Linked DNA regions of Homo sapiens. The protein of the gene in region 1 purifies or fractionates together with the protein of each later gene. This does not show direct contact. Each region holds a gene or a part of one and is shown on either strand. Other genes may lie near its edges.

The links.
Region 2: the proteins of CTDSP2 (region 1) and ZC3H3 purify together in Homo sapiens (affinity purification with mass spectrometry; 3 studies listed by BioGRID and IntAct, with this or other methods). This does not show direct contact.
Region 3: the proteins of CTDSP2 (region 1) and PRR14 purify together in Homo sapiens (affinity purification with mass spectrometry; 3 studies listed by BioGRID and IntAct, with this or other methods). This does not show direct contact.

Annotation. Positions count from the first base shown.
Region 1 is NC_000012.12:57,826,181-57,829,824, reverse strand, and holds part of CTDSP2 (carboxy-terminal domain RNA polymerase II polypeptide A small phosphatase 2), read left to right. Parts: intron 1-228; coding exon 229-377; intron 378-2,234; coding exon 2,235-2,273; coding exon of another isoform or gene 2,274-2,291; intron 2,292-2,727; coding exon 2,728-2,829; intron 2,830-3,422; coding exon 3,423-3,479; intron 3,480-3,644. UniProt on the Homo sapiens protein: Preferentially catalyzes the dephosphorylation of 'Ser-5' within the tandem 7 residue repeats in the C-terminal domain (CTD) of the largest RNA polymerase II subunit POLR2A.
Region 2 is NC_000008.11:143,468,379-143,472,022, forward strand, and holds part of ZC3H3 (zinc finger CCCH domain-containing protein 3), read right to left. Parts: intron 282-3,644; coding exon 239-281; intron 163-238; coding exon 4-162; intron 1-3. UniProt on the Homo sapiens protein: Required for the export of polyadenylated mRNAs from the nucleus. Enhances ACVR1B-induced SMAD-dependent transcription. Binds to single-stranded DNA but not to double-stranded DNA in vitro. Involved in RNA cleavage.
Region 3 is NC_000016.10:30,649,407-30,653,150, forward strand, and holds the start of PRR14 (proline-rich protein 14), read left to right. Parts: upstream 1-1,553; 5' UTR 1,554-1,721; intron 1,722-2,189; 5' UTR 2,190-2,239; coding exon 2,240-2,262; intron 2,263-2,389; coding exon 2,390-2,558; intron 2,559-3,314; coding exon 3,315-3,436; intron 3,437-3,507; coding exon 3,508-3,697; intron 3,698-3,744. UniProt on the Homo sapiens protein: Functions in tethering peripheral heterochromatin to the nuclear lamina during interphase, possibly through the interaction with heterochromatin protein CBX5/HP1 alpha. Might play a role in reattaching heterochromatin to the nuclear lamina at mitotic exit.

The DNA.
Region 1 (3,644 bases):
TCAGGTCTCCCAAGCCAGAGAGTGGGGATTCCTGACATTCCTGCTTTAAAGAGAAAAGGCTGGAATAAACATGTATGTTTGACTGTTAACTGTATGTGGTTGTTCACCAGCCGTATACTGTGTGCCCTAGTAGAGTTTACAAACTAGAAGAGCTATGGGCATGGTAGTATCTGTGGACAGAAACTGATGTCCCTAGAGCTAAAGCCTCTGTCATTCTCTCCACCCTAGGCCTGGTCTCCAAGTCCTCTCCTAAGAAGCCTCGTGGACGTAACATCTTCAAGGCCCTTTTCTGCTGTTTTCGCGCCCAGCATGTTGGCCAGTCAAGTTCCTCCACTGAGCTCGCTGCGTATAAGGAGGAAGCAAACACCATTGCTAAGGTAGGTGGGTTGGGGTGGTAAGATGCCAGCAATGAAGGGACTGTTAATGGGAGATCCCTGCAGACGATGGCAACCGGACAAGGAAGCTTTGCCTGAAGTTGCAAAGATTTCTGGCTGAGAGGGGGCCCTTCCTCCATCCTTCCATAAGTAGTGTATTTCCTTTCTGTTCCTTCCCTTTTGCGGTGTGGGCCATTCACATGTCACTGTGGTTTCTGAGGGCCCCTGTGATCCTGATCCTTCCAGGTTCCAGGAACTAGGCAAGGTGCTTTGCATATATTGTCTCATGTGATCCAGCCAGCAGCCCTGTAAGGAGATCACAGGATTCACACTTTGCAGATATGGATTTATGTAGAGGGTTTATGTAGCACCTGAAGAGTTCATGGTTAATAAATAGTAGTGTCAGGATTTGAACTTAGATTTCTCTGGCTCTAAAGCCTGTGTTGTTGTTCTCAATTATGCAAAGCTAACTTCCAAGTTACCTGAGTTACAGGGAACCAAGGAATTGAAACTCTACCATGCTGTTAATAACTCCTGTCAGCAGTTCTCTCCCATACTCATGCAAGGCATTTGGGATTTTGTGGGTATTTTTTATATGTCTAGTATTTCACAGGTGGGGCCAGCCCCGACCAACAAAAATTATTCTGCCCCAAAAGCCAGTGGTACTTCTCTGAAACACTGAGGTCTGGTTGTCCTTCCTTTTTCTCAAGACCAGGCTGAAGACATACATCAGTGAAAAATCACTGCATTTTGCAGTAGGGGAAATGGTTAAATAAAATACAACATGACAGTATTACTGAGTGATTAGCTTTTACAGAGTTCTCAATAACATGGAGAAGTATTGAGTTGCAACATTAAGTAAAAAGGCAGAGTGTGTAATTGTATAGCATTCTGGAAAAAGTCTGCGGACACAGATTTGAAGGCAGTACACTGAATGCCACATTGTTTATCTAAGTGCTAGGATTTTAATTTTTCTTCAAAGTTTTCATTAAGAACACTTAAAACCATAACTTTTTTTTTTTTTTTTTTGAGATGGAGTTTCGCTCTTGTTGCTCAGGCTGGAGTGCAATGGCGTGCGATCTTGGCTCACCGCAACCTCCGCCTCCCGGGTTCAAGCGATTCTCCTGCCTCAGTCTCCCGAGTAGCTGGGATTACAGGCATGTGCCACCACGACCGGCTAATTTTGTATTTTTAGTAGAGACGGAGTTTCTCCATGTTGATCAGGCTGGTCTCGAACTCCTGACCTCAGGTGATCCGCGCGCCTCGGCCTCCCAAAGTGCTGGGATTACAGGCATGAGCCACTGCGCCCGGCGGTCATAACATTTGTATTAGCAAAAATTGGGGTGGGGGGCTTGCTGATCTCTCTGCACTCCCTCCCCTCACATTTTGGGTACCTACAATGTGGCTTACTTGATGTTTTATAGGGCTTGTTCCCCCACATAACCCCTAAGGAGGGCATGGAAAACAACATGTTCTCAAGGAGAAGCCTGAGTTTAAGGACTTAGCGAGAGTTTGCCACTGTGAGGAATTCAGACTTTGGTTCTGCCTCTGACTCTGTGTCCCTGAATCAGTTACTTGAGTTCCCTGTTCCTCACTTTGTCCAGTTGAGAGGCAGTGGCAGCCGAGAACAGGGACACTTGTCTTCTCCATCCTTCATCAGGCCTAATGTGGAAAGGAAGCTCTAGCCTTTCCCTTTTCCTGCCCCACTCCTAGGAAAAGTCACTTTTGACATGGTAGGAGCTTCCAGGTGGCTGGGTCTGGGGGAGAAAGTTGCCCTCCAGGCTTAAGACAGAAGCAGTGGGTTTGGATGGGGTGGGAAAGGCAGTGAGATGGCACTGACCACCTCCTTCTCTTCCTCAGTCGGATCTGCTCCAGTGTCTCCAGTACCAGTTCTACCAGGTACGTGACTCTGGCCTGGTAAGTACTCAGAAGCCAGGATCCTGTGATCCCTGCCAGCTCCACGGGCAGGGTGATGTGCATAGTCCTTGGTGCCTAGCCAGCCACCTCCCTGACCTGGGAAGCCATTTGTTCCCCATACTTGTTGAGGGCCTGCTATGTGCAAGGCATTAGATTTTAGGGGACAGCTGGTGCTCCATGCCCTCTTCCCACAGCTGCTGTCCATCCCACACCTGCCCTGGCCACCACCTCCAATGTCCAGATCACTTAATAGTCCCACTGGGAGGCTGAAACCAAGGAAACAACTCCACCTCCTTTCTTCCTGGCCTTTAAGTGGTGCCTATCCTGGGTTGGTGATTGTGTCTCCACAAACAACCCAGCTCTTCCCATAATTATGCCAAGGGGTACAATTGGGCTTTCTTGGTAGGCAGATCTCAGCAACCTGGCTTGGTTTTAGATCCCAGGGACCTGCCTGCTCCCAGAGGTGACAGAGGAAGATCAAGGAAGGATCTGTGTGGTCATTGACCTCGATGAAACCCTTGTGCATAGCTCCTTTAAGGTAACTCAATGTCTGGAACCCTTCCTACCTTTATCTTGGGCCTTCTTGTGAATCTGGCAACAGATGTGTAAGGCAGCCTAAAGGTGAGGAAAGAAGAGTGATTAGAAGGGAAAAGGCCAGGCCTCTGGCATTTTGGCCACCCTGTGTCACAGGTATCTAGAGGCCCCACTGAAGAATGTTGAGTAGGAACCCTGTGTGTTCCACCAGGGCTGCTATCTCCAGTCACTCCCAACAGGCTGCATCTGCCCCCGAGCCACATAGCACAGAAAGCCAGCCACGAGGGCTCTGTACAGGGCAGGCCTAAAAGAGTGGTTGGATCACCTTTGGCCCTTGCCCCTGCTTGTCTCCTCAGGAAACTCAGGCCCCAAAACTCTCAGCCCAGGTAGAATTTGTCAGAGTGGAGGTGCTAAGGAGTAGGGAAAACCAGAATGGGGTATCACATCTTGAACTAGGGTGAGAACCCCTTAATGAGGTGGCCAGAGGCACTTCCAGGAGTCTTTAAGACCTGTTTCTCCCCACCCACCTAGGGGTATGGTGGGGGCCTCATGTTTCTTTGCCACCATGCTGACAGCATTAACTTTTCTGCCTTCCAGCCAATCAACAATGCTGACTTCATAGTGCCTATAGAGATTGAGGGGACCACTCACCAGGTGAGCTGCCAGCCAGACCACACCCAGCCCAGAGGGTGGGGGGTCTGCCTTCTGCCTCACCTGTACTGGGGTCCTCCACCCATCTCAGGGCTTGGGTTCTGTCAGTTGATCCCTTTTCTATAACTCCAGCCTCCCCTTTTTATTGGTATCTTTCACTCAAGGCTT
Region 2 (3,644 bases), on another chromosome or scaffold:
CACCTGGTGCACACGGCCACCTTCTCGGGATCGTGGATGTAGGGGCAGCGCTCGCCACGGTTGCACCTGCCGAAGCGGTTGTAGTACATGCAGTACTCCTTCCTCTTCTCCCTGCGCTGCCGCGCCTGCCGGATGATGGCCAGGCTGCGCTGCACTGCCCGGCTGCAGACGGGGAGAGAGGTGCGTGAGCCTGAGGGCGAGCAGGGAGCCCACCCACTGCCCAGCCCAAAGGCATTACCTGGCCAGGGAACGGCTACAGCTGCCTGCAGGATCCAGCCGGCCTGTGGGGGAGAGAGGCACGGGTCATAGCAGGCCACAGCCTGGCCCGCACGCCCTTTCCCTGCTGACCCCCTTAGTCGAGGCCCTCAGGGGTCCCAACACTCAGCTCAGGCACAGCCTCCCCTCCAGGAAACTGCCCAGAGCTCCCCTCCCCACAGTGGTTCAGATGCCCTGGGCCCTGCCAGGCCCCTCTGGGGACACAGCACCTGAGAGTGGGGAGCTGCTGGGCCCTGTGTCTAGCTCCTCTCCAGGGCAGGGTCCGGGCAGGGCTCCTGTCCCTGCCCTCAGAGCCAGCAAAGCCAGGCAGCACCCGCGGAGGGCTTGGCCACGTGGGCTGGAGACGCCCGCCTGTCCCTGCTGCCTCCCTGGCCAGGCTCCCCAGGGCCACGCTTTGCTGGCTGGAACCCCCCTGCTGGCTTCCTCATGTCCCTGGGTGCCCACCCTGGGCCAAGGCAGTGACTGGCCTATGGACACTGCTCCTGGCTCTCTCCTCAGCCCTGGCCACCCAGGAAGCTGCCCTGTAAACAGAACAGCTGCTAACAGCAGCACCTCCCTCTGCCAGGGCCTGGGCTGGCAGGACCCGCGGGGTCACTTAGACCAGGGGGTGAATATGGCCCATGGGGCACACATGGTCTGGCCTTTTGGGAGCAAGAATGGCTTCTGACTTTTAGAGGGCTATAAAACTAAAGACATGCAGCAGAGAAGGTGTGGGGGCAAAGCCCGCTTGGCGGAGGCATCTGCCCAGCTGCCCACTGCAGCTGTGGAGGTCTGGGGGAAGGGCACCTGTCCCTGAAGCCCTGGGCTGGCGCTGGCAGATCCTGGCTAGTGTCTGTTACTCTAAATTTTAGAGGTGCCTCATCAGATGCTCCTCAAAACCCCAAGCATAAGCACCACCCCCGCCTTTCTGAAACCGCACACCACGGCCTGGGAGGGCGGCCTGGGAGTGCGGTGGTGGCAGGAAGGAAATGGACCTTGGGGCTGGACATGGCCGAGTGCTGCCAGGCCTGAGAGCCAAGGGGATGAGGCGGGGAGGGGGTGCCATCTGGAGGAGGAGGGTCTGCTCCGGTGACACAGCCCTGCCTGCCTTTTACAGACAGAGGTCACCCAGGATCACGGGGTGGGCAGGGCAGGACCAGCCTGCTGAGGGCGGCTTTCCCGGGTTCCTCAAATACGCGCATGATCCTTCCCAGACCAGATCCAATTTCCTACAGGGCAAATGCTGAAATGGACACTGCAGTTAAGAGGCAGAGGTGACATCACTCAGAAATTCTGGGGACCTGAGGTGGTGACAAAGCCATCCTGGTTTAAAAAGGGATGTCCCAAAGCCGCCCAGCCCCAAATAGCCAGACCTGCCCCACTCTTGAGCACCAGAGAGCAGCCTCGTCCTCACTCTCCCAGATGGCCCAGCAGCCGCAGACTCCCACCCGAGGACCCAAGGCTTCCGCTCCCTCGCACCCCCAGGCTGGAGCCCCCCCCACTCCTCGCTTTGTGCTTTGCGTCCAGCCCAGTGCTCCCTAGCTAGGGTCAGTGGTGCTGCTGCCCTTCACCCTCAGGGGCCCTGCCTACTGTCCCCACTCAGCCCGTCTCAAGTTTCAAAAGGGCAGCTCCAGAGCTGAGTGGCCAGCGAGCCCGGCTGGGGCAGGAGCAGGAGCTAGTCATGGTACCTGGGGCAGGAAAGGGGGCGTTGAAGAACGCAGAAACCTGAGGCGTGTGGGGGGCCAGGGGCAAAGGGAGGGTGATGAGGGTCTTGGTGCGGAGGGACCAACGCGGGGGTGCTCAGGGCAGCCCCCGTTCTCAGGCCGGGACCCTTGTCCCCGGGTGGGCAGCAGGGCCCAGTCCAGACGGCACGGGCACGCCCTCACACCTGCCAGCCTGTGGGGTGAGGGACGCGGCAATGCGGCGGTCTGTCGGCACTGCTGGTTCCCAGTCTCTCGCCCAGGCTGCCAGTGACACTGCGACGCCATCTGCTCCAGGCAGGGACACACTGGCATCACGTGCCCGCCTGGCAGGACCGGGTGCAGCAGGAGGGGTTACCTCCCTTTCCACTTTGTGCTCTTTAAAAAAATGCCAGTGTGAGGCTCACGGCAGGAGTTCTGACAAGAACAGGAGGCACTTTTTCAAATGCTTTGCAGTGTTAAAAAATGCACATAAAATAGCTGGCTGGAAAAGAAGCAAGGGCTGCCTGAGAAGTGCTAAAAAGTTCAACTGAATAACCCCCAGCAGCTCCACAGCAGAAGGCGCCATGCATTCCAGAGAACTTTCACTTCCCCGGGATCTTCTCAGAATAGACTCGGCTCCCACCAGCCCCACCCCCTGCTCGGTGCCCCAGTGCCAGCTCTGGGCACCGCTGGATGTCAGGCTCTGCAAGGCAAGCGGGGTGGGGGCCTTGCAGTCAGAGGTTCCTCAGCACCTCCAGGCCCTGCTCCGGCCAGCACCCACTGGACAGCTGCTGCCTGGCCCAAGGGACAACATCCACGATGACCGGGGCACGCAGGCAGCCCCAATTCCCAGGCCAGCACTCTCCCAAGAAGTTAGGCAGGGCTGCGCCAAGCCCTGGTCTGCTCACAGCGCGCCCACCAGGCCCTCCAGGGCACGTCCGTCTGGCACATGGAGGCTGTGCCCTTGGGAGAAGGCAGCCAGCGGCAGAGGGTGCCCCAGAAGAGGCAGTGTGGGGCGGGGGCAAGCCGACAGGGCCTTCGTCACCCCAGGGAGGGTGGGCAGGTGACCAGCAGGGGAGGCGCAGAGGCCGGACGTGCCAGGAACACGCAGCAGCTGGCCCACAGCAGGGAGGGCCACGGCCACAGGTGGCTGGGGGCTTTGGGGACACAGAACAAGCCAAGGCCAGCCCTGTGGCCAGAGACTGGGGCCTCTGCCCCACCACAGGAGCCATCAGGCTCATGGTGGCCACATATGGGCCATGCTCACTGGGGGCCCACACAGGATTCTGTGGGGAGGGACCCTGGAGCTCAGGCCTTCAGGTGGCAGGCGGGCCCAGGAGGGAGGGCTCGGCTTCAGGGACTGGGGAAGCTGGGGGTAGAAGCCATACTGTCCTCTGCCGTCAGGGGCCCAGAGCCCAGGGGGTCAGCCAGGACAGCCACCCCCACCCCTTCCAAGAAGGCTGCTGCACTTTCTTGTTGAAGTCAAATTTCTGCTGACACCAGGGGAGGAAATTTATTTCTTTAATTATTATTCCTCTTAAGTGGGCTGGTCAGCGGTATCCCACAGCTGGGAGCCATCTACCTTCCTCATGGCGAGGCGGGGCCGGTGGTGGCCCAGGCAGCTGGAGCTGTGGCCTCGCCTGTCGACCCAAAGGGCGAGTGCGGCCTCACTGGGCTCTGCACAGCCCCAGGACTGCCACAGTCGCC
Region 3 (3,744 bases), on another chromosome or scaffold:
TGATCCGCTATCTTCTGCCTCCCAAAGTGCTGGGATAACAGGTGTGAGCCACCACACCCGGCCCTGTTTTATCACTTTCATCACTCAATCCCCTGAGAATTATGACACCTAAACCAGGAAGCACCTCTGCACCTTATCTCGGACCCAGGATTCTAGGCTTCAGGGTCTCTCGTTCTGTTAAGAAAACAAAATAAGGACTCGTGCTGGGCGCTCACGCCTGTAATCCCAGCACTTTGGGACGCTGAGGCGGGAGGACTACTTGAGCCCAGGTGTTCAAGATCAGCCTGGGCAACATAGCGAGATCCTGCCTCAAATTAAAAAAAAAAAATTAAAAAAGAAAAGAAGTACTGGTTTGGACCAGGGAATCTGGGGAAGGAGAACTAGTGCAGACATGGGCTTTGGTTAAGCGGTCAGGGCACCTTCATAGCGCTGCAAGAAGCCACTACATGCCCACTTCCTCCCCACCAACAGCCCAGCTTCCAGTAAAGGGTCCATGACGCAGCTCCTCCAAGCAGCAGCGTCCCACCCTGATCCCTTACTCCTCAGGACTATTTACACCTCCCCCATCCTGCGGGCCCCACTTGAGACAGTGGTTCCTGAGAGCCGGGCCCCACTAGCAAGCCAAGGTATATTCTTGGCCTCCTGCAAAGATGCCCCTGTCCTATAGACCTCTGCGCGGACCGTGGGCACCCCCACTTCTCCAGGAAGAAGTAGGTGGGCAACACTCAGGGGAAGTCAAGCTTAGCGCCCCCAGTCTCCTCCCCACTTCGGCTCGGTCCCATCTCTCCAGGACAAGGCGCCAGCAACGGAGCCACAGGCCGCACCAGCCCGTCTTTGATCCCGGGTGTTCGGACTCAGGGCCTCCACCACCCCCTCCTAAACTCGGACCCTGGGCCGTGGGAACCCAGTTTAGGAACCCAGGAAGATGCCGGAACCTTCCTCAAACGAGGCCACTCTAGGAAATTGGGAATTTCACATATCGTTAGCACTCAGTCGACGTTTATTGGCCTAAGAACGAAAGAACCGGAAGATGCCCTTAAAAAGCGTGGCGGCACTCTAGCTTCAATCGGTTGCCTCAACATATCAAGAAACCTGGCATTGTATATGGCCCTCAAAAGATGACGCCACCCGGTCCACCACGGTTCAACGAGGACTAAGACATCTGCCCTCAACCATCATGGCGGCGCCACTCAGTTTGGCTTCCTGCCCCTAGGGATGATGGCCGCCAGGTGGCTTCACTTAGTTTCTCACCACCCCGGAAGACGGGGACCGGCGATTGGGCGGTGTCCAGAGGCTCCGAGAAGAAGGCCATCGGCGGTTGGGCAGCGTTGGGTAAGCTTGGTTTTTAAAGGAGCCGGAGGTGGGAGCTGCGGAAGACCCGGGATCCACGGGAGGCGGCGGTGAGCAGCCCTTGGGGGAGGGCAAGGAGTGGCTGGAGAGAGGGCGGGAGTGGGGGCGGGGAAGGAAACTTCTGAACCATCTGGTCCCGGGCCGGGGGAGACCGCTGGGCGGGGACGCGAGGAGGGAAGGGGCGTCTGTGGGCGGGACCTCCCGGGATTGGAGTGAAGAGGGTATCTGCTTGACAGTGGATCCCTGGGGATCTACGCTGAGTTCGGAGATGCTCCAGCTCGGGCCGCCCCTGTCTGAGCGGAGCTTTGCGGCGCTGAAGCTTACAGGGGAAGGAAAAGCCTCGCCCGGCGTCTGATTGGCGGAACCGCGCTGTAGGATTCTTTCCTCAGGGATCCAGTCTAGGGGATCTGGTGGGATGGAGGGTCGTCGATGTATGGAGTATTGCTTTGGAGTCCTCGGCCACTCGCTGGGAGAGGAGGAGGATCGCAGAGGGATCCAGCGGAAATAGCCTCCCAGGACCGGGATCCCCGTGGATCCCGGGGGATCTCGGGGCATAATCTGCAGGGACAAAGGCCTCGGGAGGCTCGGGCCGCGGGAGAACTGGGGCCGCTGCATTCTGGGTTCTGGCGGCAGGTGCCAGGCAGGGCGCGAGTGATCCGCTGATCGAGGCGGTGGCAGCGGGAGGACACCCGCTCCGGGCGACCGGCCGGGGGCGCCCTTTCGCGCCCCAGGGCTGCGGCCGCTGGGCTACGGGGAGCCGCGGGCGGACCATGAAGGGCGGAGCCCCAGGGAAGGGGCCGGCCCTCACCCCCCGCTCCCCCGCTCCCCCCTTACCCCAGGCCGCAGCCTGGGATTCCCCAGGGACCCCCCCGGAGCCGCCGCGTCTCCCATGGACTTGCCCGGGGACTCCAGGTGAGAGCGTACCCGGGCGGCCCGCCTGTCTTGACCCCGGGAGATGGGGATCCTGGCGACCGTGCCGGGAAACTACAGAGCCAGCGACAGGTTCGGGCGACCGTCCTCTGCTTCTTTCACCCTCCAGCCCGCCTGGCCAGCCGCGTCTGTGCCGCCAGCCTCTGACTCGAGCATTATGGGGAGCCAGGAGCCCGAAACGGCCGAGGCTGCAGCTCCCGGGGGCCCCTTCTCCCCTGGAAAAGGCCTCTCGGCGGGTCCTGGCCGTGGTGCTAGAAGATGTCATGGCTGTTCACATGGTGAGCCCCCTGAACCAAGAGACTCTCTATTCCCCCATGACTTTCCTCACTACCAAACTCGGGCCAGATCCCTACTGAGGATAACTGAAGTCCAAATCCATCATTGTTGTACTCAGCCCTCAGGCAGCCTCCCTCATGGTAGAGTCCTGCTTGGCTCCCACTTACTCCAACCTAGAATTGGGCAGTGCCCATTCCACCCACCAACGATTTTGGGCTGGAACCACATCCCTGTAACTCTGAGAAACTCTTCTGCTTCTTTTTTTCTATCTTTTTTTTTTTTTTAGAGACAGGGTCTTGCTATGTTGCACAAGCTGGTCTCAAACTGGCATCAAGCGATCTTCCCATCTCTGCCTCCCAAAGTATTGGGATTACAGGCGTGAGCCACGGCGCTGGGCCGAAACTCTTCTGCTTTCTTCCCAGCCCAGCCTCCTTAGGAAGCAGGCTGAGGTCTTTGACTCCACTGCACAGATAAGAAAAACTGGCCCAAAAAAGGCAGTGACCCACCCTAGCTCACCCTGTCTTTTTCATTTCTCTAAACAGCGTGGATGAGATTACCCAGGTCCTACACCTGCAGTTTAGGACTCTTAATATCTGGCCCCTAATTCAGTCCAATTCATCTCTTCTCTTGGGATCCGAGTGAATTCTAGCCCCAATCTCTGTTATGTTTGTGGCTCAGGGCACTGTGAGGCACAGGGAAACCTTGTCCCGTCCAGCCTCATTCTATCACCTTGCTCTTGACACCTCTTTCTCTTCCAGGTCCCCGTGGTGCCCTCAAAGCAGACCTCCATACCACAGCACCACAGCTACCATCAGGATCCTGTCCACAGGCAGCCGCCTGCCTCGCCACCCCGGCAGGCCGGGTGGTCCTCGCAGGCCAGGTGAGCATGGCAGGATGGGGGTAAGCCGAGGGCCCAGCTGAGCCATTTTAATCTTCCTGTTCCCTCGCTAGGCCTCCCGACCCTCTGTGTTTGTGTCGCGAGCCCTTGAGCCGCATCCACCGGACCTCTTCCACCCTGAGGCGGCGATCAAGGACAACCCCTGGCCCAGAGGAGGGCCCTTCACAAAAGGTGGACCGGGCCCCCCAGCCCACCCTGGTGGTGATGCTGGAAGACATCGCCAGTCCTAGACCCCCCGCTGAGGTATGGGAACTGAGGGTACGGATGTCAAGGGTTCTGCTGGGTTCCAG